7 linked regions of the Homo sapiens genome follow. The protein of the gene in region 1 interacts with the protein of each later gene in a biochemical or structural test. Each region holds a gene or a part of one and is shown on either strand. Other genes may lie near its edges. The genes, in order: MAPK3, MAPT, HDAC6, SREBF2, PTPN7, CREBBP and PTPRB.

What was found.
Region 2: of the proteins of MAPK3 (region 1) and MAPT, one has a biochemical effect on the other in vitro, tested with the Homo sapiens proteins (2 studies listed by BioGRID).
Region 3: the proteins of MAPK3 (region 1) and HDAC6 form a complex in vitro, tested with the Homo sapiens proteins (2 studies listed by BioGRID, with this or other methods).
Region 4: of the proteins of MAPK3 (region 1) and SREBF2, one has a biochemical effect on the other in vitro, tested with the Homo sapiens proteins (2 studies listed by BioGRID).
Region 5: the proteins of MAPK3 (region 1) and PTPN7 form a complex in vitro, tested with the Homo sapiens proteins (3 studies listed by BioGRID, with this or other methods).
Region 6: of the proteins of MAPK3 (region 1) and CREBBP, one has a biochemical effect on the other in vitro, tested with the Homo sapiens proteins (2 studies listed by BioGRID).
Region 7: of the proteins of MAPK3 (region 1) and PTPRB, one has a biochemical effect on the other in vitro, tested with the Homo sapiens proteins (2 studies listed by IntAct).

The regions. Positions count from the first base shown.
Region 1 is NC_000016.10:30,116,913-30,120,220, reverse strand, and holds part of MAPK3 (mitogen-activated protein kinase 3), read left to right. Parts: intron 1-1,682; coding exon 1,683-1,872; intron 1,873-2,057; coding exon 2,058-2,174; intron 2,175-2,436; coding exon 2,437-2,551; intron 2,552-2,935; coding exon 2,936-3,067; intron 3,068-3,217; coding exon 3,218-3,308.
Region 2 is NC_000017.11:45,985,054-45,988,553, reverse strand, and holds part of MAPT (microtubule-associated protein tau), read right to left. Parts: intron 1,515-3,500; coding exon 1,459-1,514; intron 1-1,458. UniProt on the Homo sapiens protein: Promotes microtubule assembly and stability, and might be involved in the establishment and maintenance of neuronal polarity.
Region 3 is NC_000023.11:48,822,272-48,825,476, forward strand, and holds the end of HDAC6 (protein deacetylase HDAC6), read left to right. Parts: intron 1-348; coding exon 349-523; intron 524-640; coding exon 641-1,317; intron 1,318-1,400; coding exon 1,401-1,514; intron 1,515-1,650; coding exon 1,651-1,797; intron 1,798-1,894; coding exon 1,895-2,023; intron 2,024-2,272; coding exon 2,273-2,341; 3' UTR 2,342-2,705; downstream 2,706-3,205.
Region 4 is NC_000022.11:41,864,105-41,867,604, forward strand, and holds part of SREBF2 (sterol regulatory element-binding protein 2), read left to right. Parts: intron 1-2,726; coding exon 2,727-3,176; intron 3,177-3,500.
Region 5 is NC_000001.11:202,146,516-202,150,602, reverse strand, and holds the end of PTPN7 (tyrosine-protein phosphatase non-receptor type 7), read left to right. Parts: intron 1-178; coding exon 179-292; intron 293-1,230; coding exon of another isoform or gene 1,231-1,368; intron 1,369-1,903; coding exon 1,904-1,997; 3' UTR 1,998-3,587; downstream 3,588-4,087. UniProt on the Homo sapiens protein: Protein phosphatase that acts preferentially on tyrosine-phosphorylated MAPK1. Plays a role in the regulation of T and B-lymphocyte development and signal transduction.
Region 6 is NC_000016.10:3,734,214-3,737,713, forward strand, and holds part of CREBBP (CREB-binding protein), read right to left. Parts: intron 2,603-3,500; coding exon 2,437-2,602; intron 1,991-2,436; coding exon 1,823-1,990; intron 1-1,822. UniProt on the Homo sapiens protein: Acetylates histones, giving a specific tag for transcriptional activation. Mediates acetylation of histone H3 at 'Lys-18' and 'Lys-27' (H3K18ac and H3K27ac, respectively).
Region 7 is NC_000012.12:70,567,930-70,571,429, reverse strand, and holds part of PTPRB (receptor-type tyrosine-protein phosphatase beta), read left to right. Parts: exon of another isoform or gene 1-140; coding exon 141-404; exon of another isoform or gene 405-1,491; coding exon 1,492-1,755; exon of another isoform or gene 1,756-1,932; intron 1,933-3,500. UniProt on the Homo sapiens protein: Plays an important role in blood vessel remodeling and angiogenesis. Not necessary for the initial formation of blood vessels, but is essential for their maintenance and remodeling. Can induce dephosphorylation of TEK/TIE2, CDH5/VE-cadherin and KDR/VEGFR-2.

The sequences.
Region 1 (3,308 bases):
AGACCCTTTCAAGGCTGATTCTTGTTTTCTTTGTTTTTTGTTTGTTTGTTTTTAGATGGAGTCTCCCTCTGTTGCCCAGGCTAGAGTGCAGTGGCTCAATCTCAGCTCACGGCAACCTCCACCTCCCAGGTTCAAGCTATTCTCCTGCCTCAGCCTTCCAAGTAGCTGGGACTACAGGCGCCTGCCACCACGCCCGGCTAATTTTTGTATTTTCAGTAGATGCGGGGTTTCGCCCTGTTCACCAGGCTGGCGTCAAACTCCTGACCTCAGGTCATCAACCCACCTTGGCCTCCTGAAGAGCTGGGATTACAGGCATGAGCCACCATGCCTGGTCTCAAGGCAGATTCTAAAAGACAGCCCTGACTTATTTTTCTAGAGACAAGCCAAACAGCATTTGTGGATTTATTTATTTATTTACGCATAAGCTTTTTTGTATCTTCAAATAGAAAAAGACATTTTACTCCTCCATCTTCTGAGGTATGGCCAAGCACTCTCCTTTGAGTGGGAGTGTGCTGTTGGGAGTGTCTCCTCATTTTTCTTGCACAAACCATTCCCATAAGGCAGGCATTTATTTTTAAGCAAACATTTATTGCATGCCAGATGGTGTTCATACATTATCTCATTTAACTCCCTCAACAGCCATGTGACTCAGGCATTCATATTAGTAATAATAGTTCATGTTTGCCTAGCACTCACAACTTGCCAAGCACTGGGCTGACAGCTTTACATGCGCCATCTCATCTAGTCTTCACAACCACCCTCAAAAGAACCATTATTTCATGGCTTGCACCTGTAATTTCCAGCACTTTGGGAGGCCGAGGTGGAAGGAACACTTGAACCCATGAGTTCAAGACCTGCCTGGGCAACAGAGCAAGAGCCCATCTCCACAAAAAGAAAACAAACAAACAAACAAAAAAACATTATTTCCCCTACATACCAGATGAGAAAGTTGAGGCACAGACAGGTTGAGATCCTAAAGCCAGTGAGTAGTAGAGAGGAGATTTCAGACATCCATGGGTTAACTCCAGAGTTGCTGCTCTTTTTGTAGGTTTTTTTTTTTTTTTAATTTATTTATTTTTGAGACAGAGTCTCACTCTGTCATCCGGGCTGCAGTGCAGTGACACAATCTTGGCTCACTGCAACATCTGCCTCCTGGGTTCAAGTGATTCTCGTGCTGCAGCCTCCTGAGTAGCTGGGATTACAGGCACATGCCGCCGTGCCCAGTTAATTTTGCTATTTTTAGTAGAGACAGGGTTTTGCCATGTTGCCCAGGCTGGTGGTCTCAAACTCCTGGCCTCAAGCAGTCCTCCCGCCTCAGCCTCCCAAAGTGCTGGGATTACAGGTGTGAGCCACCACTCCTGGCCCAAGTTGCTGCTCTTAACTGTGAAGTTCTCCTGCCTCCCACAGTTTATTATTATCCCCGTTTCCCCGGTAGGGAAACTGAGGCCTCAGAAATGAAGCCCCTTGCTCAGGATCAGCAACTGTGATGCAACAGAGGCTCAGAGCCCTGCCGCTGGGTAATGGCAGCAGCTTCCCCAGCTGGTGGTGCAGGTTGGCAGATCTATTGAGTCCCAGGGGCCCTGGCTGGAGGAGGTGTGCAGCCTCGCCTTCAGAGCCTGTTTTCCTTAACCAAGTGCCTCCCACTGCCCCCTGCCTGGGGGGGTCTGCGGAACCATCCTCAGCTACATTGTGCAGGACCTGATGGAGACTGACCTGTACAAGTTGCTGAAAAGCCAGCAGCTGAGCAATGACCATATCTGCTACTTCCTCTACCAGATCCTGCGGGGCCTCAAGTACATCCACTCCGCCAACGTGCTCCACCGAGATCTAAAGCCCTCCAACCTGCTCATCAACACCACCTGCGACCTTAAGGTCAGAGGGTTGGGCACCTGTCCCCTCCTCCCCCAGGGTCTGGGGCTTCCAGTGACCAGTAGAAGAAGCCTTGGGCAGGAGAACATTGCAAGCAAAGGGAACAGTGGAGGCAAAGACAAGGGGGCGTGACTGCTTAGGCTGCAGAGGCCTTGAGCGCCGAGCTTAGCAGCTAGGTCTGATTCCAGATTTGTGATTTCGGCCTGGCCCGGATTGCCGATCCTGAGCATGACCACACCGGCTTCCTGACGGAGTATGTGGCTACGCGCTGGTACCGGGCCCCAGAGATCATGCTGAACTCCAAGGTAGGAGGGGCTGCCCACTCCTGAAAGGAACGGACCAGTTCCCAGGAAGCCCTGGAGCTACCTCTGAGCCAGACACTGACCCCCATGACACAGGAATTCTACCCTCTGGGCCTTGGGCTCTGCAAGGAAGCTGAGCATTGAGCCCTCCAGGCCTCTGCCTTCTGCCTGGTGTTGGATCTAACTTGGAGGTGGTGGCCTGGCGCAGACAACAGGACCCTGTTGAGGCTGGCCCAGGAGCTCACCACTTCCTCCTCTCCCCCAGGGCTATACCAAGTCCATCGACATCTGGTCTGTGGGCTGCATTCTGGCTGAGATGCTCTCTAACCGGCCCATCTTCCCTGGCAAGCACTACCTGGATCAGCTCAACCACATTCTGGGTGAGGGAGGCCCGGCTGGCTGAGTTGGGGATGATTAGCTTTTCCGAGGTGAGATTTCTCGAGAGTCCAAGTCAGGGATACCACCACGTGTGGGGTGCCTCCAGCATCTCATGGTATCTCAATGAGGTATAGATATTATCCCCATTGGATAGATGGGAAAAGCAAGGCTAAGTCCCACACCTGAGGAGGCACCAGACCTAGGATTTGAGCCTCGGTCTGCCTGAACCCAGCCCCCTTGCTCTGCACCACCATGCTAATGACTAGGAGGTGACTGAGGGATTGGCATGGGTTGCTGGGCTGGGGGGTCTTGTTCTTGCCTTGTTGCCTATTCTGTTCCCAGAAAGAAAGAGGTGATCATTTACCAAGTCACCTCCTTATCCACAGGCATCCTGGGCTCCCCATCCCAGGAGGACCTGAATTGTATCATCAACATGAAGGCCCGAAACTACCTACAGTCTCTGCCCTCCAAGACCAAGGTGGCTTGGGCCAAGCTTTTCCCCAAGTCAGACTCCAAAGGTTCGAGAGACATGAGGGTGGGTGTGGGATAAACCTTGGGTGTCGTGGAGGGTGTGTGAGCCCAGCAGCCGCTGGAGGAGACAGGCAAAGCAATGCTTCTCGGAGCTCCTCCAGTCTTCCCTGTGACCCCTGACTCCTGCCCTTCCATAGCCCTTGACCTGCTGGACCGGATGTTAACCTTTAACCCCAATAAACGGATCACAGTGGAGGAAGCGCTGGCTCACCCCTACCTGGAGCAGTA
Region 2 (3,500 bases), on another chromosome or scaffold:
AGGGACGGGTGTCTGCACGCCTGTCCCTATGGAGGCGGGGCTGGGGGGGGCCCTGGAACCAGGATGCAGGATAGATGGTGACTGACACCCACAGTTCGTCCTGCCCGTGGGGGATTTTGACGGGTGGGCATGGCCCTGGAGGAGAAGGGGGTGTTTGGAGGGGAACAGGTCACACTCTCGGGAAACAAAGTGGGGAGGCTAAGCCTCGAAGTGTTTCCAAGAGCAAGTCAGAGCTCAGAGAAGGGTCCTGTCCCAGACTTCACTGGGCTTCTAGGGGATGCTATCTTATTGCTTTCCAATTCCCCATGGAAGCGGCCAAGGCCCTCTGTGTGGTCAGGCTTGGTAAGGAGGACCCAGGAGATGAAGTAGCAATGGGAGAGGAGGGACACAGGCTGGGGCCCTGGGGCTGATGACAAGAAAGCAAAGCTGGGGTGGGGGTATTGACGACTCCTCCTTCCCTCGCTGCACACGGCCCCTCTCCACCAGCAGCACTCCCCAGCTGGCCGAGGCCCAGGGTAATAGATCTTTCCCCTCCCTAGACTCTGGGCAACTCCAGGGCAGGGATGTTGTACCCATGTGTACTGAATGAATGAATGAAGGAAGGAACAAATGAATGCATGCATGCATGAGGCTGGTATTCCCTGCCCCCTGCCCCCAGCACTAAATGTGCACCGTGATTGACAAGCAGCTGTCACTATCACTTCAGAGACCCAGGCCAGCTCTCCAAATCCCCACAGGCCCTTCCACTGCCTCACTAGATGAGGCTGGGGAGCCCTGACTCTGCAGGCACTTCCGGGAGCAGCCCTCAACACACCACTGAATGCTCAGAGCTATGTGGCAACTGGAGATGCCCTCCGGGCTCCAGTACTGATTAAAATTCAGGTGTTTCAGACAGAATTTATGCTGGAAATTTTAGATACCTTTAAGAAAAATAGGTCTTATCTAGAGCCATGGTGGGATTTTCCAGGAAAAACGCCACTGTGCAATTACGGGAGCATTTCCCCAGACATTTCCCCAGTCATTGAGACAGTAAACAATGGGTGAAGTGAAATACTGAGAAGGATGGGCGAAGATCTGGGTGCAGTTTATGCAGTGAGAAGATGGCTTCATTTACTGTCCTAGGGCTGGTTTTCAAACACACCTTCATTTACTGTCCTGGGTTTGGTTTTCAAACACACCTTCATTTACTGTCAGGGTCTCACTGAAAGTACACTAAGAAAGCTGGAATTAGGAGCATGACTTCATGAACCTGCCAACTGCTCTTCCCTGGGGTAAGTATCAAAACTAATAAATGCTGGACTTTTTAAAAGCCTGCCCCAAAATACAAAGCACTTTAAATGACAGCTGTACTTTAGTGACAAATACTCCCCACATTATATATGAGAATGAATCAGACATAAAGCACAGCTTCTCTGTAAACTTGACCAGCTGCAGAGCTCCGTGGCATCGTCAGCTTACCTTGGCTTTTTTGTCATCGCTTCCAGTCCCGTCTTTGCTTTTACTGACCATGCGAGCTGATAAAATATAAAATAAGAATGCTTGTCACACTCCATTTTCACTGTTCACAGAAAGCCAGCTGTGGTGAAGCTGGATTTCTCTGGGATAGGTCCATGTTTGTTTAGTTGGGTCTGGTGGAAACCCAGTTGGTTCTCTTTTCCCTTGAATCTGCTAGGCCTCGCATTGTTAGTATCAACACAGCACACTGGGGTCACTGATTAGCGCAACCTGGCAAGAGGGGGCAGCAGGCTGGCCGAGGGTGGGACCATGCAGAGGGGACGCAGCAGAAACTGTCACGGGGACATGATGGCATGGAGGCTATCTAAGGAAGGTGCAGTCTCCCTAACCCACAGGCTCCTGCCCTGTTTCTGCCAGGGTCAGCCTCACCCCACTGGGACCAGCCCCACTCCATGGATGGGTGTTTTAAAAGCCTCAGGGCCATGGATGTTGGTAGCTCAGTGAGGACCCAGCCTCCTGCAAGATCCAAGGATGGGGGTGGGTGCATTGTCTCCACACTGCAGCCAGGCTTGGCCCTGATTCCCTGTGAGGTGCCTGCTCACCCTCTTGGCCTTGGAAACTGCCTGGAACCACCCGGCTCCCCTGCCCATGTGGCTAGATTGCCAGCAGTCCTGATTTCCACCTTCCTGGCCATCTTATGCTGACCAACCCATCTCCATTTCTGGTCACACGCCTCCAGAATAGGAGAGGCTGGCAGGGTTGTCTTTGTCCCCTAGTTGCTGGTTGTACCCCCAGGGCCTGCCCCTCACTAATGGTGGCTTTGGCCACCAGCCCCAGCTGCTCTGAGACGAGCCAAGCCCAGCCCAGCCCTGAGCCAGGCCTGGTGGGTTTCTTGCCACTTACTGGTCTTCAAAGGGCACGAATTCTCACTGCTTCCCCAAATTAGCTACAAACCAGTTACCATCATACATTCCCACAGACAACATCAGCCTTCATCACACTCCTTGGTGAAACCAACCCGCTGACCTGTCAGCCAGCATCAGCGCTAACTCACCCTTCTCCTTCTCTTGACAGTCACTGCTGAAAACTGATCATAGATTTTCTTCTTTGGTTTCAATATCACATTCCCTCTACCCCATGGACAACTGGGTCTCTTGGAGCTTCTCATTGGCTATTGTCACCTGGATTTCTAGAGGGACCAGCAATGAGTATGCCCAGAGGTTTTCCAACTATACTATGTGGCAGAATCACCTGCTAAAAGACTCCCAGGCTTACCCCACAACTGGGTCTGTAAGCCTAAAGTGGCACCTGGGAACCTGCACTTTAGTAAGAGCCCCAGGCGGATCTGACTCACGTGTTCTTTGTTTTGCCCACATCAACCAGCACCATCCACGGCACAACAAAAGAATCTGCTAAATCGGCATTTCCCAAACTTCCTCCAGGAAATGTTAGCAGGTAGAATCAAGTAAGTTTGGGAAACCCACTCTGTGACCTTCTCAGAGGGTCACAATGGCCATTAGTACATTAAAGGCTCTGACAAGTCCTGCAGCAGAAAAGCCTGTTTAACTTACTTTAGTCTTTTATTTTTTTCCCCCAGTCACTGGGCCATGGAACTCTTTTTTAATCCAAACACACCTATGAACCTCTAGTAGGCCAGTATTCAAGAAAACATCATTTCAGGAAATATTGTAGTAACCTGTCAAGTCAGTTATTTGTCCCCTACTGTTTTGGAATTTAACAAAGGATATAGGATATATTTTTTTCTCTCTTAACTTTATTTTATTTTATTTTTTGAGACAGAGTCTCACTCTGTCGCCCAGGCTTAGGGTACAGTGGTGTGATCTTGGCTCACTGTAACCTCTGCCTCCTGGGTTCAAGCACTTATCCTGCTTCAGCCTCCCCAGTAGCTGGGACTACAGGTGCCCGCCACCACGCCCAGCTAATTTTTTGTAATTTTAGTAGAGACAGGGTCTCACCATGTTGGCCAGGCTGGTCTCGAACTCCTAACCTCAAATGATCCACCTGCCTTGGCCTCCCAAAGTGCT
Region 3 (3,205 bases), on another chromosome or scaffold:
CTGTATAGATTGAGCGCCTGTGGTTGTGAGGATTGAGTTAATATGCATGAAGTACTTAAAATCGGGTCTGGCACACAGCAAACAATAAATGTCAGCTGTTACTAATGCTTTTATCAGTATTGTTATCTTGCACTTTACATCACAATTTACTCCCCACAACAACCACCTTACACAGTGGGTGCTGCCTATCTTAAAGGTGTGGGTTCTGTTCACTTGTTCTCAGTACTCCCCCTCCCTCTCCAGACTTGCAGGGCTCAGTAGGGAGGATTGGGGAGGCAGGACATGTTGTCCTCCAAATTCCCCAATGAACCCCCACCATACCTTTCCCTCCCCTTTTCCTTAACAAAGGGTGGCTATAACCTGACATCCATCTCAGAGTCCATGGCTGCCTGCACTCGCTCCCTCCTTGGAGACCCACCACCCCTGCTGACCCTGCCACGGCCCCCACTATCAGGGGCCCTGGCCTCAATCACTGAGACCATCCAAGTCCATCGCAGATACTGGCGCAGCTTACGGGTCATGAGTGAGTGGATTTGGGGGTGATGGGGGGAACCCAGGGAAGGAGGGGGCTGAGGGGCAGAGATCAGAGGCAGGAAGGGTGACAGTACCCACACTCAAGGATCTCCCTCCCTGGTTCCAGAGGTAGAAGACAGAGAAGGACCCTCCAGTTCTAAGTTGGTCACCAAGAAGGCACCCCAACCAGCCAAACCTAGGTTAGCTGAGCGGATGACCACACGAGAAAAGAAGGTTCTGGAAGCAGGCATGGGGAAAGTCACCTCGGCATCATTTGGGGAAGAGTCCACTCCAGGCCAGACTAACTCAGAGACAGCTGTGGTGGCCCTCACTCAGGACCAGCCCTCAGAGGCAGCCACAGGGGGAGCCACTCTGGCCCAGACCATTTCTGAGGCAGCCATTGGGGGAGCCATGCTGGGCCAGACCACCTCAGAGGAGGCTGTCGGGGGAGCCACTCCGGACCAGACCACCTCAGAGGAGACTGTGGGAGGAGCCATTCTGGACCAGACCACCTCAGAGGATGCTGTTGGGGGAGCCACGCTGGGCCAGACTACCTCAGAGGAGGCTGTAGGAGGAGCTACACTGGCCCAGACCACCTCGGAGGCAGCCATGGAGGGAGCCACACTGGACCAGACTACGTCAGAGGAGGCTCCAGGGGGCACCGAGCTGATCCAAACTCCTCTAGCCTCGAGCACAGACCACCAGACCCCCCCAACCTCACCTGTGCAGGGAACTACACCCCAGATATCTCCCAGTACACTGATTGGGAGTCTCAGGACCTTGGAGCTAGGCAGCGAATCTCAGGTAAGGCTCACCACACCCAGGTAGGGGCAAGAAGGGGCAAGAATCGGGCTTCTCTGATACATCTCTTACTTCTGCGTGTCCAGGGGGCCTCAGAATCTCAGGCCCCAGGAGAGGAGAACCTACTAGGAGAGGCAGCTGGAGGTCAGGACATGGCTGATTCGATGCTGATGCAGGGATCTAGGGGCCTCACTGATCAGGTGAGCTCAGGGAGAGGCTGGGACTGTGGCTTCCTTCTCTTGCCAATTTGTGTCTCCAGGTAGGAGCATGTGATGAATAAACATATAATGGGGAGATGGGGTCTTCAGCTTACCTAGTTTCACCCACCCACTCCAGGCCATATTTTATGCTGTGACACCACTGCCCTGGTGTCCCCATTTGGTGGCAGTATGCCCCATACCTGCAGCAGGCCTAGACGTGACCCAACCTTGTGGGGACTGTGGAACAATCCAAGAGAATTGGGTGTGTCTCTCTTGCTATCAGGTATGGAGCAGAGGAAGGGGATGGGGCGGAGGTTGGCCCGGGAGCAAACTGCAGGGGGATGCTGACCCCCACCTGACACTCACACCCCCAACCTCAGGTCTACTGTGGTCGTTACATCAATGGCCACATGCTCCAACACCATGGAAATTCTGGACACCCGCTGGTCCTCAGCTACATCGACCTGTCAGCCTGGTGTTACTACTGTCAGGCCTATGTCCACCACCAGGTGGGCCCTGGGTAGACCCTTCGACACGTGCACACTCACCCCCCACACACACACCCCTTCTGTGATTGGGTAAAGGGAGACCACAGGCCCCTCTGCATGGCTGCCTCATGTGATTATTTTGCATGGGGCGGGGGCTGTGGGATAGTCCAGAAGACAGAGTGGTTGAGGGCTGGAGTGGGGGCAGCCCTGCAGCCGAGGTAGAGGGGTCCTCACTCTCTCTCACCTGCCCTATTCTTGCCTCCTCCTCAGGCTCTCCTAGATGTGAAGAACATCGCCCACCAGAACAAGTTTGGGGAGGATATGCCCCACCCACACTAAGCCCCAGAATACGGTCCCTCTTCACCTTCTGAGGCCCACGATAGACCAGCTGTAGCTCATTCCAGCCTGTACCTTGGATGAGGGGTAGCCTCCCACTGCATCCCATCCTGAATATCCTTTGCAACTCCCCAAGAGTGCTTATTTAAGTGTTAATACTTTTAAGAGAACTGCGACGATTAATTGTGGATCTCCCCCTGCCCATTGCCTGCTTGAGGGGCACCACTACTCCAGCCCAGAAGGAAAGGGGGGCAGCTCAGTGGCCCCAAGAGGGAGCTGATATCATGAGGATAACATTGGCGGGAGGGGAGTTAACTGGCAGGCATGGCAAGGTTGCATATGTAATAAAGTACAAGCTGTTAAAAAACCTGGAGAAAGCTTTTTGACTTTGAGCAGGTGGAGAACCCCACATCCCTGGCCAGCAGAGCCGATGAGTAATGAAGGAATGAGGGAGTGGGTCTCTGTCAGGTCAATCCCCTGCCCATCCATTGCCCCCAAAAAACTAACTGAAAATAGAGCAGCCATCTTGACTGGCTCCACGGGATATAAAATGGTAGAATCCATGAGAAAATGGGTGCTTGCCTTATAAATAGGAGCCTCACAGCCAGTCCCAGCCACACCCACACCCTAGGCTGAGAAGGCAAGAAAACTAGCAGGAAGTATCCTTACCAGGCCTGTTTCCCCACTGTCTCATTGGCCTGACTGGGGATGGTGGGAGGTCCAGGTTTAACTTGAATGTGGTGGTCATGGTAGCTTCTTGGCAGAAGGGGTGCCTGCCATTGACCACAGGTGGGAAATTGGAGGACAGTCTGAGAGCTGAATTTCTCCCACGTGGTGAGAATTGCTTTGGCAGCTCAAGGGAGTTGG
Region 4 (3,500 bases), on another chromosome or scaffold:
CTGACTTCAGGTGATCCACCTGCCTTGGCCTCCCAAAGTGCTGGGATTACAAGCATAAGCCACCACCCCTGGCCTATTTACATTTAATTATGATTTATTTTTCCTATCCTTCTGCAAGCATATATATATATATATATATATATATATATATATATATACACACACACACACACACACACAAAATATCAAAATATATATATATATGTATATATATATATATTTTTTTTTTTTTTTGAGACTGAGTCTCGCTCTGTTGCCCAGGCTGGAGTGCAGTGGCACGATCTCTGCTCACTGCAAGCTCTGCCTCCCGGGTTCACTCCATTCTCCTGACTCAGCCTCCCGAGTAGCTTGGACTACAGGCGCCCACCACCACGCCCAGCTAATTTTTTGTATTTTTAGTAGAGACGGGGTTTCACCGTGTTAGCCAGGATGGTCTCGATCTCCTGACCTTGTGATCCGCACGCCTTGGCCTCCCAAAGTGCTGGGATTATAGGCGTGAGTCACCGCGCCCGGCCCAAAAAATCTTTGTGTTTTTTTGTTTGTTTGTTTTGTGTTCAGAGAAGGGATCTGGCTAGGTGCCCTGGCTCATGCCTGTAGTCCCAGCACTTTGGGAGGCCAAACCGAGAGGTTGCTTTTCAGGAGTTTGAGACCAGCCTGGGCAACATGGTGAAATCTCGTCTCTACAGAAAATACAAAAATTAGCCGGGCATGGTTGGCGCACACCTGTGGTCCCAGCTACTCAGGAGGCTGATGTGGAAGGATCGCTTGAGCCTGGGAGGTGGAGGCTGCAGTGAGCTGAAATTGCAACACTGCACTCCAACCTGGGTGACAGAGCAATACCCTATCTCAAAAAAAAGAGAGACAGAGTCTCGCTGTGTTGCCCAGGCTGTTCTCAAACTCCTGACCTCAAGTGACCCTCCCACCTTGGCCTCACAATGCACTGGGATTACAGGCATGAGCCACCACAACCGGTCTCAGCAGCTTTCTGTTTGTCAGATATACAAATATACCCCAGGCTCCAGGCCCCCACATCCCCCAAAAAACACACACACACACACACACACAGCATCAGAGACCTGAGAAGGACATCTTGGTGGAGGTTTGGGGGAATGGAGATGGTTCCTTTTATTTTTTTATAGTGGTGGTGTGGTGGTTTTTGTTGTTTTGGTGTCTAAATCAGAGCATCACATGGCCTTGAAGGTTTGGAAAGGAGGGGCCATAGTTCAAGAACAAGCAGTAGCTTCTTGGGAACGTATTGGAGAGAGAAAAGAGAAAAGAATATGGACAATGTAGAGAATTGTAGGTCTGAAACTATCTGGGACAAAGCTGAGGCTCCTGACTTCTATAGGGACCAGTCATATGAAAAAGAAGGGAGTCGTGAGAGATGATGGGGTAGTTGTGGGTTAAGTTGGGTTTTGGAAAGCCTTTGGGAAGATTGACCAGGGAAGAGGCCCTGGAAGTAGGCTTGAGACCCTTTGGGCTGGGAATTTAAGGGTCCCAGCTACTTGGAACATGATCTAGAAAGGGAAGCGAGGTCTCCAGGTGGACAAATCCCTTTGGACCCAAGACTCCTTGCCCAGAGAAAAGGGGCACAACCAGACAAGGGCTAGCATGGGCCCTGGGAAGCACGGAGTTCAGGGTGGGGCAGGCTTGCTGTGTCCTGGCCTGGCAACATACCTGCACTGTGTTGTGGTAGAAGAACACAAAGCTGGGAGGCAGAGAACTGGTTCTAATCCTAGCTGTACCCTGACAAGCTGTGTGACCTTGGCCAAGTTACTTTCCTCTCCTGGACTTCATATATGGTTTTTCCATTCTTTGCATCCCTGAAGCTCCATGACTTAGGGGCCATCAACTTGGTTGTCCCTGAGTGTTTCCAAGAATACCAACAGTGCCCAGGGTTTTACTCAGCTTGGAGAGGAGGCCTAGAGCCTCCCTGTGGTGAGGAGGAAAGAGGTTAGAGCAAGTTTGGGTCTGCAGTGCTAGGATTAGAGGTGGCCTCACAAGCCAAAACCGCTATACTCACAGCCTTAGGACAGTGACTCCCTACTCGCTGCCTCAGTGTTTCCAGCTGTAAAAAAGGACCCTTGGTACCTTCGACAGAACAGCACCCATCTAGTACAAAGGTAGTTCCTTTTATGATCAAAACAATCAGGAAAAAGAGAGAGGCTGGGTGCGGTGGCTCACACCTGTAATCCCAGCACTTTGGGAGGCTGAGGTGGGTGGATCACCTAAGGTCAGGAGTTCGAGACCCACCTATCAATATGGTGAAACCCTGTCTCTACTAAAATTACAAAAATTAGCCGGGCATGGTGCCGTGCACCTATAGTCCCAGCTACTCAGGAGGCTGAGGCGGGAGAATCGCTTGAACCCAGGAGGCAGAGGTTGAAGTAAGACAAGTTCGCGCCACTGCACTCCATCCAGCGTGGGCGATAGAGGAAGACTCCGTCTCAAAAAGAAAAAAGAAAGAAAATGAGAGAAAGGGCCTGGAGGTGAGTGTGAGGAGGGAAAAGAACATCAAACAGATAAAGTCCTGTCCTGTTGTCCTGGGACCTTGGGCAGCCATCTTGGCCCAGATGATCCCCACAAGAAAGAGGTAAGGGTTTCCTGACCCATTTCTGCCATGGTCTTAGGAAAGTCATTGAGTTTTCATGCCTTAGTTTCTTAAGCAAGTTTGAAAGTTCACTTTTTGGATAGCAATAAAATTACTCCTTTTCTTTTGTTCACAGAGATGCTGCAATTTGTCAGTAATCAAGTGGGAGAGTTCCCTGACTTGTTTTCAGAACAGCTGTGTAGCTCCTTTCCTGGCAGTGGTGGTAGTGGTAGCAGCAGCGGCAGCAGTGGCAGCAGCAGCAGCAGCAGCAATGGCAGGGGCAGCAGCAGCGGAGCTGTGGACCCTTCAGTGCAACGGTCATTCACCCAGGTCACATTACCTTCCTTCTCTCCCTCGGCGGCCTCCCCACAGGCTCCAACTCTGCAAGTCAAGGTTTCTCCCACCTCAGTTCCCACCACACCCAGGGCAACTCCTATTCTTCAGCCCCGCCCCCAGCCCCAGCCTCAACCTCAAACTCAGCTGCAACAACAGACGGTAATGATCACGCCAACATTCAGCACCACTCCGCAGACGAGGATCATCCAGCAGCCTTTGATATACCAGAATGCAGCTACTAGCTTTCAAGGTGATTCAGAAGTTAGAATGGTAGTGGTTGGTTGGTTCCAATGTTTATGTGCCAGTTTGCAGACACTGTAAATATTTCTGTCGTCTTCAGGAATGGCAGGTATATCAATATGGTCCTGTCTGAATGAGGTTCTGGTAACTGGCAATAAGAACTGGTACAGGAGCATGTCACATTCTGCAGCTTCAAATACCTTAATATCTATTGCGCCTAATTCAAAAATACTTGGTTAAAAAATCCAGCAAGCGGCCGGGCGCGGTGGCTCACGCCTGTAATCCCAGCACTTTGGGAGGCCAAGGCGGGCGGATCACGAGGTCAGGAGATTGA
Region 5 (4,087 bases), on another chromosome or scaffold:
CCAGCAGGGCCCCCAAGGGGACTGGAAAGCAGAGTACTGCTACCTGCCTCCATCTCCAGAGCCCTATCCCCAAAATATAGCACCTGCAGGTCCCATTTCTTTCTCCATAGTTTGGGGCCTGGCTCTCATATTCCCTGGTCTCCCATGACCTCCCTGTCCCCTCCCTGGCTATCTCCAGTGCAGGGATTGGCCGGACGGGCTGCTTCATCGCCACGCGAATTGGCTGTCAACAGCTGAAAGCCCGAGGAGAAGTGGACATTCTGGGTATTGTGTGCCAACTGCGGCTAGACAGGTGGGTCTGTGGGTGTAAACAAGGCCAACAACGTTAACGGATGGCATCAGTGCCTCTGGGCCCCAGAGTTCTGCTAGGCCCATCACCATCAAGCACTCCTGCAAGAAAGGAAGAAACCCTTTCTGCTTAGAGCTGTTTATTTTACAACTAACAACCAGGAAAAAATATCTATCTGGATGGCCGGGTGCGGTGGCTCACACCTGTAATCCCAGCACTTTGGGAGGCTGAGGCGGGTGGATCACCTGAGCCCAGGAGTTCGAGACCAGCCTGGCCAACATGGTGTAAACCCTGTCTCTACTAAAAATACAAAAATTAGCCAGGCCTGGTGCGGGCCCCTGTGATCCCAGCTACTCAGGAGGCTGAGGCAGGACAATTGCTTGAACCCAGGAGGTGGAGATTGCAGTGAGCCGAGATTGTGCCATCGCACTGCAGCCTGGGTGACAGAGCAAGACTCTGACTCAAAAAAAAAAAAAAAAAAAAACAAAAAAAAGAATATCTGTCTGGAATGTTGGCTTGGATGCCTGGAATTAAACATGATATGAGGCAGCAACAAGTAGTGCAAAGAAGATCACTGGGTGGAGGCAGAGCCGGTGTTCAGATTCTGACATCTGTCTCACTGAGATGTCACTAGATTTCTCTGAGCCCCCATTTCTTTTTTTTTCTTTCTTCTTTTTTTAATAATAGAGATGGGGGTCTCACTATGTTGCCCAGACTAGTCTCGAACTCCTGGGCTCAACAATGCCCACTTGGCTTTGCAAAGTGCTGGGATTACAGGCTTAAGCCACTGTGCCCAGCCCCCACTTCTTCTTTATCTAGACAGAGATAATGGCTCCTTCCCCCAGAAAACTGTTGTAAGAAATGAGTTAACTTATATGAAAATGTTTTGGAAATGGAAACTACTATACAAATGTATGGAATCATTATTTTTACTTTTTAAGATTATTAGAAAGAAGGAAACTTGAGGCTCAGGAGTATTCCTGGCCCGACCCAAGGCTTCAGAGATCTGGTTTTGTCCCAGGAGCTGAGTGGATCAAGGAAGACCAAGTGTCAACATGGGGCATCACCCCTCAGCACGTGTAAGGGGCAGAGGACTTCTCTCACAGCAGATCTGAGGGGCAGCAATGAGGAGTAGAAAGTAGAAAAGATGAATATAGGTGGTGGGGCATGGTGGCTCATGTCTGCAATCCAAGCAGTTTGGGAGGCCAAGATGGGCCAATCACTTGAGGTCAGGAGTTCAAGACCACCCTGGCAACATGGTGAAACCCTGTTTCTACTAAAAATACAAAAATTAGCTGGGCAAGGTGGCAGGCACTTGTAGTCCTAGCTACTCAGGAGATTGAGGCAGGAGAATCACTTGAACCTGGGAGGCAGAGGTTGCAGTGAGCTGAGATCATACCACTGCTCTCCAGCCTGGCTATCAGAGTGAGACTCTGTCTCACAAAAAAAAAAAAAAAAAAAAAAAAGTGAAAAGATGAATATAGGCAAAGGAGTTGGCATGTTCTTTGAGAAAGTCAGGACTTTCCCAGTAGGACCACAGGGATGTTTGACTGGAGCCATTCAGCCAGCACCCTGACCCTCCTTCACTCATGGTCTGTGTGTTTCTCCTTGCAGAGGGGGGATGATCCAGACGGCAGAGCAGTACCAGTTCCTGCACCACACTTTGGCCCTGTATGCAGGCCAGCTGCCTGAGGAACCCAGCCCCTGACCCCTGCCACCCTCCGGTGGCCCAGGTGCCTACCTCCCTCAAGCCTGGGAAGGTGGGTCTGGGGAAAGTGGGCCGAGTGATCTGGGGGTACCCCTTGGGTTGGTGTGGGGAAGGAGTGCCTCCTTAGTGGTGCTTGCAGTCACAGGAAGCAGCAGCAGTAAGGACAAGGGGCCGGATTCCAGGTCTTCAACACTGGCCACTCCTCTGCTTCCTCTGTTGGCCCCAGATGGACAGTAAGGGGAACCTCCAATGTCTCTCTGAACTTAAAGACAGGAGCTGGCATTTATGACAGACAAAGAAAGAAGCCCAGGTGTCCTGGTGTTCTCTGAGACACTCTTTGTGAGCTTCAGTTTCCTGTTCTATAACATGAACATAAGTGCTTAGCTGCCATGAGGGAAAAGTAATGAGAGAAGTTTCTAGAAGCCACTCCAGCCACTCCTTCCTGGGGCTGACAAAAGGGTGATTCCAAGATCATCCTTCACCCGAGGTCCTGCCCAAGCACAGGCCAGATGCAAGAATGGGGAAAAGTCTGGTCCTGATCTCCAAGTCTCAACATCCTATCAGTGACTCTGCTCCCTGACCACACATCGGAAGGGCTGGATGACCCCAATCAAAAGAAAGAACAAGGACTCTGGTTACCCTTGCCTCCACCCATGTGTCATAAGAGTAGGCTACAGAGGTGACCAGGCCTGGCAGTTGAAATCTCTGGAAGAGGGAACATGTGGGGACTACTCAGAGGCAAAGAGGAGCTGCTCCTGCCTCCATGGTTGCTGGCCACTCCCACCAACTACTCTTAGGGAGGCTAAGCAGTCTCTGTTTTGCTTCCATGGCTCAAATAATACCCTGGGTATGCAGGACCCACTATACCTTGCATTTGCTGAGTACACCTAGAGAGCTTGGCTGTTTCCAAAAACAATCAGGGTCATAACCATCCATGCAGACATGGAGGCTCGGCTGAACCAGGACTCCTCACTGTCTACCTGAGAGAATGAGCACCCCTCATCCATCTCAGCATCAACACAATTTCCAGGGGACCTCAGGTCTACCTCAGGACTGAACGCCACACCTCAGGATTCCTCCTCCTTGAATCTGAGACTGGCTGCCCATTCTGAGATGGGGATGAAGGTAAGATGCCGCATCACCAGGCACGCCGCCCCTGACAGCTGCCTTGATACCAGCTCTCTGTGGAAACCCCCGAGGAGTTGGATCTGGAGAACAGCTGGGCCTCCTCACTCAGGACTTCTCTCCTGAAGAACACGCAGTGCTAAAACTGAGGATGATTTCCCTAATGCTTCTGCTTGGCCTTATGGAGGAGCTGCTCCTTCCTTACAGCCTTGGGGATGGACTTGCCCACACCTCCACCTCCCCTGAGCCCTGTGAGAGGCACGACTGTCTATGCCAATGAGGCTCGGTGGGGGGCTCTCAAGTGCCTGATCCTGCCCTGGGCTCAGAGCCAGCCCAGAGGGAAGCAACTGCACAGCCCCACAGGCCCTCCCTGGCACTGTCCCCCCAACCCCATCTCAGAGCTCAGAGGGTACAAGCTCCAGAACAGTAACCAAGTGGGAAAATAAAGACTTCTTGGATGACTGACTCATTCCTTCTTTCCATCTTCTTCTTGGCCCTCTGGGGCCTCTTTGTAGCAAGAGAGAAAGACTGCAGACCAGGGACAGGCAGGCTGCAAATCTTTGCCCTTGGGATATGCACTTTTCTAGCACTTCCAAGGACATAAAGTAAGGTGAAACCAAAGTCAATTTAGGAAGTGAGACAGGGTGGACCCTCATAGCCTACCCAGGCAGCTGTAACAATTCACACTACCGTAAACCATGTGGCTTCTAAACAACAGAAATGTATTGCTGGCCTGGCGTGGTGGCTCATGCCTGTAATCCCAGCACTTTGGGAGGCCGAGGCAGGCGGATCACGAGGTCAGGAGATCCAGCTAACACAGTGAAACGCTGTCTCTACTAAAAATACAAAAAATTAGCCGGACGTGGTAGCACACACCTGTAGTCAGCTATTCGGGAGGCTGAGGCAGAAGAATTGTTTGAACCCTGGAGGTGGAGGGTGCAGTGAGCTATCATGCCACTGCACTC
Region 6 (3,500 bases), about 26 Mb from region 1:
GAGCTAATAGCAAAGCAGTGCTCCACCCCACGCACCAGCCCTCACTAAGGCTGACCCCCAGAGCGAGCTCCTGGGGTGTTGCTGACGAAGGCATGTCCCTGCCCATTGTTGTCCATGAACCAAACACACAAGGGACAGCAGGTCTACATGCCGACACCTCAGCATCCCGCCTCCTAACACATGCATGTCCCCGGTGCACAGGGAAGGCTGCCCCAGCAGGAGCCCCTATCAGGCCTGTCTTCTGGACAACCCCACTGCTGCCATGCCACAGGCAGGTGCCCCCTCCTGGGGTGGAACTCAGCTGCGCAAAGCCTGTCTCGGACGCGGTAACCTCCCGTGTCACCCTTAGGAGATGGAACTCAAGCATTAACTCACCAGACACCAGTGAGACCAGCTACACTCCAGCGGGAGCAAGTCCGAAGACAACAGGCCAGGAGCTCTGCTTAGGAGCCACCTAGGGCGTAAACCCACGCCACCCCCTGCCCGCGCCTCCTCTGTCCTGCGAATGACACTCTGGGGCGCCGTCCAGCAGGTGGCTGCCTCTCAACCACCTGTGCAGTGAGCACGAGTGTGTGTGGCGGAAGCGGCCCAGGCCCCACGCTCCGCCTACAGCCCATCCGGCACCCACCTCACAGACGTGCTCTCATATGGGACAGGCACCAGAGTGGCAGTATGTCCCCAGCCGGCTCCCGGCTGCCTCACCCATGGCAGCAGCCCACGCAAGAGCCACCTCCATTCACCGCTTTTCCTCACTGGTCACAATCGCCTGTCCCAAGTTCTGGGGCTGCAGCCTTCAACGTTCGTCATCGCTCTCCCTGCACCTACAGCTACAGCCCACACCCACGCCACCATCATCTCTTCCCCAGACAGCCGCACAAACCCGCACACAGCGCGCCTCCTCCCACCGCCTGGCGGGTCCTCTTCCAGCACCTTCCTGTGGTGGGCGGGTCTGGCCCACACGCCACCTCCCCAAGGCTCCTTCCCCTTCAGAGCTCTGCCACGCTCAGAGCACACCATGCTTGGGTCTGGGTTCTTTTTGTTTCACATCCTACCAGGACACAGCCACTCCCTTGGGGGCGGAGATGGGGTTTTGTTTGTTCTGAAACGGAGTCTCGCACTGTCTCCTGGGCTGGAGTGCAACGGCGCAATCTAGGCTCACTGCAACCTCCGCCTCCCGGGTTCAAGCGATTCTCCTGCCTCAACCTCCCTCGTAGCTGGGATTACAGGTGCCCCCTCCCACAACCGGCTAAATTTTTGTATTTTTAGTAGAGATGGGGTTTCACTGTGTTAGCCAGGCTGGTCTCCCTTTCCTGACCTTGTGATCCGCCTGCCTCGGCCTCCCAAAGTGCGGGGTTACAGGTGTGAGCCACCGCGCCTGGCCAGGGATGGGGTTTTGTTTGGCTCAGTCTGCACTGCCTGGCACTCAGGGGCAGCGCCAAGGAGAGAGGGCAGCAGGGCATGAGCATCATGTGCAGAGTGGCCACCAAACACGGAATAAGGCCTGGCAACCCTGTGCCTCCTCGACTCACTTTTTACATCAGCGGGTTGTGTCCTGACTGCCCCATGTCCCATTTTCTGTCTTCCTCTCTTCCCTCTCCGAGTCTAAGTGGACCCCCAGCTCCCCAGAGCATCCACTGTGCAGAGAGTGCAGAGCCCACACTGCTGCCCACCAACGCCCTGTGCTGCAGGTGGTGTCGACGTGCATGTGTGAACGGAGACACCACCACAGGAAGGACCTAACAGTCGACACGCGCCTCCCAGCCTGCCACCCTGCAGCTCCAGCGGGACACGTGGGCAATGGAGCTCAGAGAAGGGTCTGTACCTCAGTGGTTTCACTGGCTGCAGTGCTCTCTTCCTTTTTCCTCTCCTCTTCTTCTTGTTCTAGTTCCTTAATGCTCTCTTCTAACACATTGGGCCAGAAATCACCTTCAAAATAGGGCAGTTCCTTGGCACTGGTGAGCCTGTCTTCAGTTGCTTGTTTGAAAATATCCTGAGTGGGCAAAGCACAACAGTGAGATGAGGGCCATGCACGCGTGCCCCCCACCATGGTGCGACAGACCCCCACGCAAGCGTGCCCCTCACCATGGTGTGGCAGAGTCCCATGCATGTGTGCCCCCCCACCACAGTGCAGCAGACCCCCACACATGTGCACCCCCCACCACAGTGCTGGAGCCCCTATGTGTGCAACAGTGATGCACAGGCCCCAATGCCCACTGATGGAAACAGCTCCAACTGTGCTGCTCTCAGACGGCCAGGGGAAAGCCTCAATCAGCTGAAGAAAATGCTTCTAAGTTCTCACTTTAGGCTTTTATTTTTCTGCTTTCTAATCCTCATAAGTGAAGGTAATTAACAAGTATGCGAATGCAAGAAAAAGGCACACAAATATCCTCCCCTCAGTTGTGACAAAAGCCACCACCTTCCTTCAGCGCCGGGTACCTTGTAGTCATGGATGATCCGCTCTGCAAACGCCTTGTCCAGCATCTTTTTGTACCACTCCTGCAGTCGTTTTGGCTTGGGTATTTTTTGATCAGGTGGGTGGCAATGGAAGATGTAATCATCTCCTTCACTTGGAGGACAGGCCCAGATGTGCCCTGTCACATACCTGCAGGACCCACGCACACACGTCAGATGAACGTGCCAGTGAAATCGGCCCTGCCTTTAAGGAGTTATAGCAGAGGAGCAAGGACTAAAGCCAGGACAGAAGTAACCAGAGAGAGAGAATGAATGCCCACAAAGCTGGGTGTGGTGGGGGCAAGGCTCGAACTTTATCCTGAGCAAATGCAAGCCTGCAAATTAGCCCTGCAACACTTCTCCCTTGGGGTGCACACACAGGGCAGGGCCGAGGCTGCAAAAGAAACCTGAGGCCTCATTAAAGAACCAGGGAATATGATGGCTCATCAAGGCAATGCCATCCCCTTCCTCCTGTGCACTGTAAAGGCAGTTCGGTTGACTATTTTTCTCCAAGGGTCAATGTCAACATAAACCTCATTCATTCTGTTCAAGACACTTTGATCAAATGCCCCTATCCTTTTCAAGTTTCAGAAGGGAATGGGGCAGGTCTAGAGTACAGAAACCAAGGGCTAGAGAAGGAAGCCAGACCCAAGACAGCATACGCTGCAGGGTTCCGTTTACACAAAGGATTCACAAAAGACAAATTCAGAGAGACAAAGTAGATTAGTGGTCGCCTGGGGCAGGGAAGGTTTAACAGCAAGGGGCAGGAGGAACATTTTTTTTCTTTTTTCTTTTTTTTTTTTTGCGGGCGGGGGGCAGAGTTTCATTGTTGTTGCCCAGGGTGGAGTGCAATGGCATGATCTCGACTCAGCGCATCCTCTGTCTCCCTGGTTCGAGTGGCTCTCCTGCCCCCACCTCCTGAGGAGCTGGGATTACGCTAGGCACCCGCCACCACGCCTGGCTCATTTTTTGTATTTTTAGTACAGACAGGGTTTCACCATGTTGGTCAGGCTGGTCTTGAACTCCTGATCTCAGGTGATCCACCTGCC
Region 7 (3,500 bases), on another chromosome or scaffold:
TAATTATGCATGAAGTAGTGCTAGTGGTTTATTTGGGGAAGGGAGATGTTGCCAGTTCCTTGAATGTGATTCATAAATTATTATGTAGGTAAACTCTGATCAGTTCCTTTCCTGAAATGTCTTCTCATTTTTCTCCCTAGTTCCAGAGCCTGTTAAGGATCTAACATTGCGCAACAGGAGCACTGAGGACTTGCATGTGACTTGGTCAGGAGCTAATGGGGATGTCGACCAATATGAGATCCAGCTGCTCTTCAATGACATGAAAGTATTTCCTCCTTTTCACCTTGTAAATACCGCAACCGAGTATCGATTTACTTCCCTAACACCAGGCCGCCAATACAAAATTCTTGTCTTGACGATTAGCGGGGATGTACAGCAGTCAGCCTTCATTGAGGGCTTCACAGGTAATGTGAAATACTGTTCTTGAACCTGAATAGATGCAGTGGTGCATTTAACTTTCGGGTAGTTCAGGTATTTCGATTGAGCATTTGGAGGGATAAAAGGGAGACAGCAAGAAGGGACAAAGTCATGTTGATAGTGACAATGATGTTGTCCAACCTGGATGAATGAAAATAAAGTATGATGTCAGCAGAGAGTGGCGGGGTTGGAGGGTGCTTTCAGAGAAATAGCAATGAACTGATGTGATCAGCTGGTGCTTCTGAGGCACACAGATTAAGAATTAAGTGTTACTTGGGTATCACTTCTTTAGAACTCTTTTAGGAGTGTTGCCATAGTAGTTAACATGTACTGACAGTTCACCATGAACCAGACCCACAGCAAAGCATTTTATGTCTACATCTTGTTCAGTCTTCACAATGCTTTGGAAGCCAAGGCAGGAGGATAGCTTGAGCCCAGGAGTTCAAGCACAGCCTGGGCAACATGACAAAACCCTGTCTCTACAAAAAATACAAAAAAATTAGCCGGGCACGGTGTTACGTGCCTGTAGTCCCAGCTACTGGGGAGGCTGAGGTGGGAGAATCACTTGAGCCCAGGAGGTATAGGATGCAGTGAGCCATAATCATGCCATTGCACTCCAGCCTGGACAACAGACAGAGACCCTACCTCAAAAATAAAATAAAATTAAATTAAAAAAGAATCAATCTTCACAACTCTATGGGCTGGTTAGTATTATCATCACTGCCATTTTTCCTAATGAAGAAACTAAAACTTACAGAGGTCAAGTAATTTGCCTGTAGTCCCACAGCTAGTGAGTGAGAAAACCAAAACTTGGACCAAGACACCCTAACTAGCCCCTCGCTATATAATTAGCATTCCTCATTTCCACTCACCGGCTTTGACTTCCCCCTAAGCTTTCCCCCATCAACTTTAGTTCACACAGAAAAATCAGAGAAAAGTGGCAAATTGTTACTTTCTTTTTCATGTGAGTTCTCTCAGTGGGTGCCAAAACATCAGAAGCATTCAAAACTTTGTTTGAAAATTTCAACAGTTCATTCTCTAAGTGATGACTTTTAAATTTATTTTCTGTTTTAGTTCCTAGTGCTGTCAAAAATATTCACATTTCTCCCAATGGAGCAACAGATAGCCTGACGGTGAACTGGACTCCTGGTGGGGGAGACGTTGATTCCTACACGGTGTCGGCATTCAGGCACAGTCAAAAGGTTGACTCTCAGACTATTCCCAAGCACGTCTTTGAGCACACGTTCCACAGACTGGAGGCCGGGGAGCAGTACCAGATCATGATTGCCTCAGTCAGCGGGTCCCTGAAGAATCAGATAAATGTGGTTGGGCGGACAGGTAAGCATCCACCTGGAGAAGGGCTAGATTGTAGAATGCCTCATGGTTCTCCAAAATGGGACAGTGAACGGGCTCAGCTATTCACAAATCCAGATTTAAAACCACCAAAGTTTGTACAATTCAATGGTTTCAAGAGCCTTACTCATTTATTCTTTGTATTTTTCTCTTAATAGAGATCTGCAAAACAAATGAAAGGGAATCAGAAACCAAATCATTTGAACACATTTTTATACTTGCTAAAGGATAATAAAATTTTAAATTTTAACAAGCAGGCTGGGCACAGTAGCTCACGCCTGTAATCCCAGCACCCTGGAAGGCCAAGGCAGGTAGATTGCTTGAGTTCAGGAGTTCGAGACTAGCCTGGGCAACATAGCTAAACCCCATTTCTACTAAAAATACAAAAAATTAGCCAGGCGTGGTGGTGCACACCTGTAGTCCCAGCTGCTTGGAAGGCTGAGGTGGAAGAATCACCTGAGCCCGGGAGGTCAAGGCTGCAGTGAGTCGTGATCGTGCCACTGCACTCCAGCCTGGGCAACCGGAGTGAGACCCTGTCCCAATAAATAAGTAAATAAATAAATAAATAAATTTTAATAAGGAGACTTCCATAATTATGCATTTTTCAAAAGTTCTACCTTTTAAGAAAGAGTACACATCTGTGCCATCTACTTTACCTGGTAGAGCTAAAAAAACAAGTATCAAATGTATGAATAATATATCTGTTTATATCAATATCACTATTCATGTATTATTTTTGAAAGATCTCTAGCCATACTATAGTTCTCTTACAGATGAGGAAAGAACAGTTCAGAAAGCTTGTAAAACAGTATCAAGGATACGTATATAACAAGACCTAAAGCTATAATTCAAGTCTAGGTCTGTCTGGCCCCAAACCTCGTGCCCTCTCCACTGTGACACAATACTTCTTAGATGTCTCCCATTCTCATGACCACTTATTTAGTTGTGGGGTCTGGGGCTTCTATACCATGCCCTACTATGCCTCTATTTCATATCTATATTTATATCTATATCTGCATATCTTTAACCCTATGACAAATCCTGTGTTAGAAGTGGGCATTCGGGCCAGGCGCGGTAGCTCACGCCTGTAATCCCAGCACTTTGGGAGGCCAAGGTGGGTGGATCACAAGGTCAGGAGATTGAGACCATCCTGGCTAACATGGTGAAACCCCGTCTCTACTAAAAATACAAAAAATTAGCTGGGTGTGATGGCAGACGCCTGTAGTCCCAGCTACTCGGGAGGCTGAGGCAGGAGAATGGCATGAACCCAGGAGGCGGAGCTTGCAGTGAGCTGAGATCATGCCACTGCACTCCAGCTTGGTGACAGAGTGAGACTCTGTCTCCAAAAAAAGAAAGTGGGCATTCAGTAGCAAGGCAAAGCCCCTGACCTCAAGAACCTTATAATCTAGTGAAGGAGATAGAAAAGTAAAAAGGCAATTACAGTAAAACATGGTACGTGCTAAGAAAAAAGTGGTTATGAGATGTTAGAGGAGCAAACAAGAAGAGTCAGGGAAGGCTTTCAGGAGGAAGTAATATTTAAAGAAAGACTAAGAAGTCATCCAGGTGAAGTGTAAGTTGTCTTCGTTCCAACAGAGAAAACAAAGCCCTGGAGGTGAGAGAAAGGATGGCACATTTGGGAACCTACACCTTTTTTAGTATACTAGAATAAAGGCCGGGCACGGTGGCTCATGCCTGTAATCCCACATTTTGGGAAGCTGAGGTGAGTGGAT